2 linked regions of the Homo sapiens genome follow. The protein of the gene in region 1 purifies or fractionates together with the protein of each later gene. This does not show direct contact. Each region holds a gene or a part of one and is shown on either strand. Other genes may lie near its edges.

Evidence for each region. The genes of interacting proteins can lie anywhere in the genome.
Region 2: the proteins of DCPS (region 1) and ASNS fractionate together in Homo sapiens (co-fractionation; 2 studies listed by BioGRID). This does not show direct contact.

What each region holds. Positions count from the first base shown.
Region 1 is NC_000011.10:126,335,015-126,338,764, reverse strand, and holds part of DCPS (m7GpppX diphosphatase), read right to left. Parts: intron 480-3,750; coding exon 366-479; intron 1-365. UniProt on the Homo sapiens protein: Decapping scavenger enzyme that catalyzes the cleavage of a residual cap structure following the degradation of mRNAs by the 3'->5' exosome-mediated mRNA decay pathway.
Region 2 is NC_000007.14:97,851,670-97,855,419, reverse strand, and holds the end of ASNS (asparagine synthetase [glutamine-hydrolyzing]), read left to right. Parts: coding exon 1-67; intron 68-665; exon of another isoform or gene 666-739; coding exon 740-840; intron 841-2,033; coding exon 2,034-2,115; intron 2,116-2,204; coding exon 2,205-2,360; intron 2,361-2,951; coding exon 2,952-3,161; 3' UTR 3,162-3,743; downstream 3,744-3,750.

The DNA.
Region 1 (3,750 bases):
CAAGGGGAATGGAGAAAATGGAAACACCCCACCCGAGGGCTCCAGATGCGGGTGGAAGCACAGGTGGCTGCCCAGACCACTTGGCTGGTAAGGAATGGCCTATGTAGTCATGGGCACAAACATCACCCCATTTTACCTCTTGGGTGGGAGGACAGCCAGAAAGGGCTTTAAGCTGACCCATTAAAGCAAAAGCACTTATGTATGACAGGTATCCACCCAGTCCCCACAGAGAGCTCAGGCCAACCCTTGTTGGTTAATTATAATCTGCTTAGAGACAGGCCAGCGTGAGAAAGAGGGCAGTCAGAAGGACCAGCACTTACAGCAGGGTGGCCAGAGATCAGGACATTCCAGCCAGAAACCTTTACCTGCTGTTGGTTCCACTTGAGGTCAGGGATGAGGACAAAACCATCAGAGGGATCTGGGTTCTCGAAAACAATCCGGTCCGCTTCAGCCTTCTTGTCGAGAATGTTATACACCCACTGAAAGGAGGGGGAGAGAGATGGTTCACAAATCCACTCATCACCCCTTGAGAGATACCCCAAACTGAGCTCAGGGCATTCCCTGGCCTCTCCAGGAGACAGAACCAAGCCATAAAAGGCCGCCACGCTCAGAGGATCTACATCCGGGCTGCCCTGTCCCCAAGCATCTGTTCTTAGGGGTCCAGAAGGGACTTCCCCCTTCCCACTCCAGCTGGCACTCAGCCATGCGTCATCACAAGGGTCTCTGCAGCTTGGAAGGGGCCAGGCTCTTCCTGGTCAGCATAGTGCACATGCTCTGCGGAGGCCTCCAAACCCAGGCTGTGTCTGCCCTCTATAGCAGTGACCCCCTCCACCGCTCACAGGACTCAGGGGAAGAGCTGCCTCCATGGATCCTATTTCACTCTATTCAGGACTATGGGGCAAAGAGAGGTAGGAGGCTGAGGGCACCACGGTTTCCTTCTGTGGAGGGGCCAGCTACCCACCAGAGCAGTGAGAGCCTTTGCCTCTAGCAGCTCATGTGTGCACGTTTCCCGCCGCACTGGGATTCTCATCAGCAGTGGGCTCAGCACCTCTGCCCGCCTGGAGCCGCTGCAGATGCCGGTTTATCAGCAGTCTCTGCTGACACAGACCCCGCATGGCAAAGCAGAAACGAAAGCTATGTAGAGACACAGAGACAGTGACCTCACCAAGACCTTTCAGGGCTACCCAGGGCTCCCAGCCCTTGTGTCACCCTTGGATCAGCTGCTGTCAACAGTCTGCAGAGGACCTTTCCCAGGCCTGTGTTGACCCAAGGACATTACTTTACAGAGATGGTCCTGGAGGCCTGTCTGAGGTTAGGAGGCTGCAGGAGGTTGGGCTGAGAAGGCCCCTGAGCTCACAGGCCTCAAACCCCAGTACCCCCAGCTCTCCTCTACTTCCCCCGGCTCTCAGGGCCCTTTGCAAACATGAACTCATGCAGGACAGTGAACTCTGCCCTACATCTGGGGGAGAGACCTGCTAGGAAACCAGAGAGGGGAGTGGCTGAGGACATACTACTGCCCCTTCCTCCTCACAGTCAGAATGGTCTCCGAGCTCACTGATGTAGGAGAAGGAGCCATGGACACGAGGTGGGATGGGGAGGCCAGGGAACCGACACTACCAGGCAGCCATCCATGGTCCTCCTTCCACTCCCAGAAGTGCTGGACAGGTAGCATCACCGAAGGCTAGAGGCACGGGGACTGCCTTATGGTCCACACAACCTCACACCTTGAGCCTGGAGGGCTGAACACACTGCATTGCATCCTCGCCTCTCAGCTGGGATGGACCGGGGGAGAGGGCAGCTGGGCCTCGAGGTCTCCTGCAACTCTCTACCCACAGGAAGCATTTCAGCTCAGAGGGCCCCAAACCCCTGACAAGACCCACAGGCCGGTCACAATGTGGTCCATTCACAACAAAAGACAGGCAGTTCCCAAGAAACCGAATGAGGCCCCTTCCTGGGAGGGGTCTGGAGGACACCTGGCAGCCACTTCCTCATGCAGTGCCGGGGCCAGAGCAATGCATGGCCAGTACATCCACAGAGGCATTTCCTCTCTGACCTGAAATCTCCTGGGAATGTGATGCCAGAGGAAGCCAGCGGAAATACAAGGGAGGGAGGGAGACGGCATTCCCTACAGACAGCCCCAACGCACCCCATAAGCAGGCCTCCCCACGGCCAGTCCCTGATTCACAGAAAAGGGGCATCTGCCTGTGACTAGTATAAGAGTGAGAGTGAACAGGTTCTGAGCCAAGGAGACCTGGTTTCATCTCCCAGCTGTCACTGGGTGAGCGACTGATGCCTCCTTTGTAAAATGGGGCTGATGATATCTACATAAGGGTGGTGAAGGTTTTCAGAGAACACGCACATGAAAGCACCTAGCACAGCCAGTATAAGGGAGACCCCCACGAGTGGCAAAGGTGGTGGGATGGTATGCCAGAGGCTACAAAACTGACTGGGGACAGGAAAAGAGGGAAAGGCGGTGAGAGCAAAGGAGGTGGTGAGAGAGGAAATAAGAGCGGGGCTGGAGGACGAGTGACTGCAGGAAGGAGTGATGACTGTGAGAGCAGCTGCACTCTGCCTGGCACTGCTCTCAGCGTCACAGCAACCCTGAGAGGTGGCTGCTATCATTGTCGCCATTTTTTTTTTTTTTTTTTTGAGATGGAGTCTTGCTCTTTCGCCCAGACTAGAGTGCAGTGGCGTGATTTCGGCTCACTGCAACCTCCGCCTCCCAGGTTCAAGCGATTCTCTTGCCTCAGTAGCTGGGATTATAGGTGCCCACCACCACACCCGACTAATTTTTATATTTTTAGTAGAGACAGGTTTTTTTGTTGGTTTTTGTTTTTTGTTTTTTCTGAGACGGAGTTTCACACTTGGCTGGAATGCAATGGCGTGATCTCAGCTCACTGCAACCTCCACCTCCCAGGTTCAAGTGATTCTCCTGCCTCAGCCTCCCAAGAAGCTGGGATTACAGGCGTGTGCCACCACACCCAGCTAATTTTTGTATTTTTAGTAGAGATGGGTTGCGTCATGTTGGCCAGGCTGGTCTCAAACTCCTGACCTCAAGTGAACTGCCCACCTTGGCCCAAAGTGCTGGGATTACAGGCATAAGCCACCGCGCCTGGACATTGTCCCCATTTTACAGTTAAGAAGAATGCAAGTGCAAGGAAGTTCACGCTGGGTCAGCCAATTCCAACCATGAGTATCTGGCTCCTGAGCCTGCACCCTGGGCCAAGGTACATCCTGTCTCCTGGGAGAGGCCTCTGGGACAGTGGCAGGGAGCTGCATCCACGGGAAGCCTCCAGGCCAGGGGCCCAGATAAAAAAAAAGGAGAATGAAAGAACAAAATTCACACAAACACAGAGAGCTATGTAATGGGGAGTGCCACCATCTGAAACCATGCCCAAGAACTTGGCCAGCCCTGCTGATAAACTGGGCAGAGGGTGATGCCATCAGCTTTCTGCAACTCACCTGGCTGGACTTCTTTGCAGTAGGTGACATTGGCAGCTCCCTCGGTACCCTCTCTCCCGCCTTGACCTCCCGTGAGACATCTTGCTCCTTCCTCATCACCTCCTGCTCTCTGCTTCTGCCTGCTGCCTTGCACTTCCCCTCCAGCCATGTGTGGCCTGGCCACGTCTCCCAGGTGTCTTAGCTCTGCCCATTGCTGTGCCTGTCCCTCTGAACAGTTACCTAGAGTAGGGGATGGTGGCTGCCATCCTGGCATCATTCTGTGCTGGAAACAATAGCAGGCACATGATA
Region 2 (3,750 bases), on another chromosome or scaffold:
TAGCGTGGTGATCTTCTCTGGAGAAGGATCAGATGAACTTACGCAGGGTTACATATATTTTCACAAGGTAACCACTCTGAAGTGGAGGGATATTCATGCTATATTAAGAAAAGTATGAATTGTTTGACTATTTTCTATCATCTTTCAGTATGACAGTGATATTTTTGAGTATCTTGTGAGGTTACAAAAGGGAATCTGATAGTGTTTGCTTTCTATCTCTTGGGGAAGAAAGAAATTTTAATGTGTCAGATAATTTTTATTCTTTAAAACTAGTTACAGCTGGGTATGAGGGCTCATGCTCATACCCCCAGCTGCTGAGGAGGCTGAGGTGGGAGGATCACCTGAACCCAGGAGATTGAGGCTGCAGTGAGCTGTGATTGCACCACTGCACTCCTGCCTGGTTGACAGAGTAAGACCCCGTCTCTTAAAAAAAAAAAAAAAAAAGTTAAAAATAAATAAATAAAACTACTTAAGCTTGAGAATCCCCTTTCTGCCATTTCTTAGCATCCTGTGGAATTATGACTGTTGCCCATTGTGTTCATTTTATTCTAATATTAGCAGTTTGGTAGGAAGGAAGGCATGTTTTGTGAAGCATTGCTTACCTCTGTTCAGTTATTTACTCCCTTCCCTAAATTTGTTTAACTTTTTGTCTTATCCACCTTTAGGATTGGAGAGGGAGAAAGAAAAACTGCTTTGTGTGCCAAAAGCAAAACTCTTGGTGTTTTTGTTTGTGAAATAGGCTCCTTCTCCTGAAAAAGCCGAGGAGGAGAGTGAGAGGCTTCTGAGGGAACTCTATTTGTTTGATGTTCTCCGCGCAGATCGAACTACTGCTGCCCATGGGTAATATTTTTAGAGGCTATTGTAAAACAAAAACAAAAAAACACCAAAAACAAAACAAAACAAAAAGCTCAATACCCTGAGAAAATAAAAATCAATAGCTGATTGGCTATATGTTACATATAGTTGGCTATATGTTACAAAGTGTGACTTTTATAGAGAAAATGAAGCTGTTTCTTAACTTTGTCCCAAAAGGATTAGGCCACATTTCAAAGTGGTGTTGTGGTATATGGAGAGAAGTCTTCTTCCATAGGTTGTTTGAGGTGGAGTTTTCACCTTTAAAGGGTAACAACATTCTGCTCACATCTGAACAACCAAGATGGAAGAGGCAAGGCTGCTACAGCAGCTACCGTTAAGTGTTTTAAAGAGAAGTAAAGATCGTAAACATCATGTGACAAGTAGTGAGTGCCCACCATGCCCATGTGGTGCTGTAGTGACCCTGAGGGAATAGAGTAGTGAAGATACAAGGGGTTTGATTACATTATAAAGAACCAGGTTTCTTTGGTTATCATTTCTAGTTGTCTAAAGTTATGTTGAAGAACTGAAGACTTTTACTGTACAGGATAAACAACTGACATTAAATGTCTTAGTTGCCTCTGCTGAATCACACCTAGATAAGGATATAATTAAATATGGGTTTGAGGAATGAACTGAATCTGGTCATTATCCTCTCTGCTTGTCCTAACTAGAGTCACTAGGCTTCAGGAAACCGGTGATTTGGAATTTGATGAAATATAGTGGGACACTGGTTTATATCGCATATTGTATGTGAATTTTTAATCAGTGGCAAAAAAATACTGTATCGTCATCACAATTGTTAGAAGAGATGGTCTCACCTAGTAAACACTGAGTTAGGTCTAGGCAAGGTATTTTCTTAATGATTGGGTCACTCATGTTTTGTAACTTTTTCTGCTTTTTGAAATATGCATTTAACTATTCCTAGAAGGGAAAGTAAAAGTAATAGTCTCAGTTAGTTTTACTCCCTAGATGACATGATATATGTATTATTTTAAATGAAGATTTATTTTTTGTATCTATTCATTAGTGTAGGGCAGTCATTAGGAGGCTTGTATGTGACTGTATGACCTTAACATTTCTTAAGATCTGGTTGAATTGATGGGAAACTGAATCAGAACCTAACCTGGCAGGCACTAAATACCCATTTTAATTTAGATTTTCTTCTTTTCTCCTTTAAGTCTTGAACTGAGAGTCCCATTTCTAGATCATCGATTTTCTTCCTATTACTTGTCTCTGCCACCAGAAATGAGAATTCCAAAGGTAGGTAAATCAACTCAAGGTAAAACTGTCCATTGCCATCAGATTATATTTGTAATTTTTACCTGATGCTCCTTTTTTTGTCACGTCAGAATGGGATAGAAAAACATCTCCTGAGAGAGACGTTTGAGGATTCCAATCTGATACCCAAAGAGATTCTCTGGCGACCAAAAGAAGCCTTCAGTGATGGAATAACTTCAGTTAAGAATTCCTGGTTTAAGATTTTACAGGAATACGTTGAACATCAGGTATAATGTCTTTAAAAACATTTTCAGGAATAAGACAGTTTGGATGCAGAGCTGTCATTGCTGTTCATTTTGTATTTAGTTTGAATGATACATGTATTTAGTTTGAATGATACATGTATTTAGTTTGAATGATACATACATCAGATATCTCTCTGATAGGATGTCCCTATCAGAGAGATTCAGAGTCTCTGTAAACAATTATCTCTTTTGTAAGAATTACGTAAGAATTAAGTAGCATGAAGGATTATAAAGTAGCATCTAGAATCGAGAGAGAGAGGAGACTTACTACTAATCATCACTGATTTTCATTTATCAGATTTTTGGGCACCTGCTGGGTGCCAGATCTTGTTAGGCACAAATGACTAAAACAGAGCCACCAAGTATTAAAAATATGCATATGAGTGTTCTTTAAAAGGCACTGCAGCTATCCATATTATGAATACTTTAGCATTTTCTAAGTGATGGGTGATTCAAAGGGTCTCATACAAGTTACAGTCACGTCTTAACATTTTCTGTTTCGTGAAATGAGACTAAACACAAGTATTTCCTGCCATTTTAAGCCATTTTGCTCTTATATGCTTATTCTTACAGGTTGATGATGCAATGATGGCAAATGCAGCCCAGAAATTTCCCTTCAATACTCCTAAAACCAAAGAAGGATATTACTACCGTCAAGTCTTTGAACGCCATTACCCAGGCCGGGCTGACTGGCTGAGCCATTACTGGATGCCCAAGTGGATCAATGCCACTGACCCTTCTGCCCGCACGCTGACCCACTACAAGTCAGCTGTCAAAGCTTAGGTGGTCTTTATGCTGTAATGTGAAAGCAAATATTTCTTCGTGTTGGATGGGGACTGTGGGTAGATAGGGGAACAATGAGAGTCAACTCAGGCTAACTTGGGTGTGAAAAAAATAAAAGTCCTAAATCTAAACCATTGCTGTAGTCATTTATGTTCATGCAGTCTCTTCATAAGAGGTAACTAGAACTGTTTTGCTGTATCACAGTAAAGTGGAGGGTAAGCTAGGAAAAGGGAAAATGATCAGATGTCTGCAAGAACTCACAGCCCTCTCCTGGCAGAGCTGCTTTAGATGACATTTGCATCTTGTGCCCGTGTGGCTTCCTTCCAGTCCTTGCCTCATCTTAGGGACGTCATCAAAGGACTACACTATTTTTGTTCTGCCTACATTCCTAACAGCTGCCTAGGCAGACTCAGACTTGAATCTTCTATAGGAGTTCATCACAGCTCTATTTTGCAAGATAGTAGTTCATTTTTTTCTCTTTTATGTTGAGCCAAAGCCACTTCTGGAGACTTGTCCTAGAGCAGGGGTCAGGCTTTTTTTGAATTTTTAATTTGTTTTTAATAAAGAGCCAGATAGTAAATATTTTAGG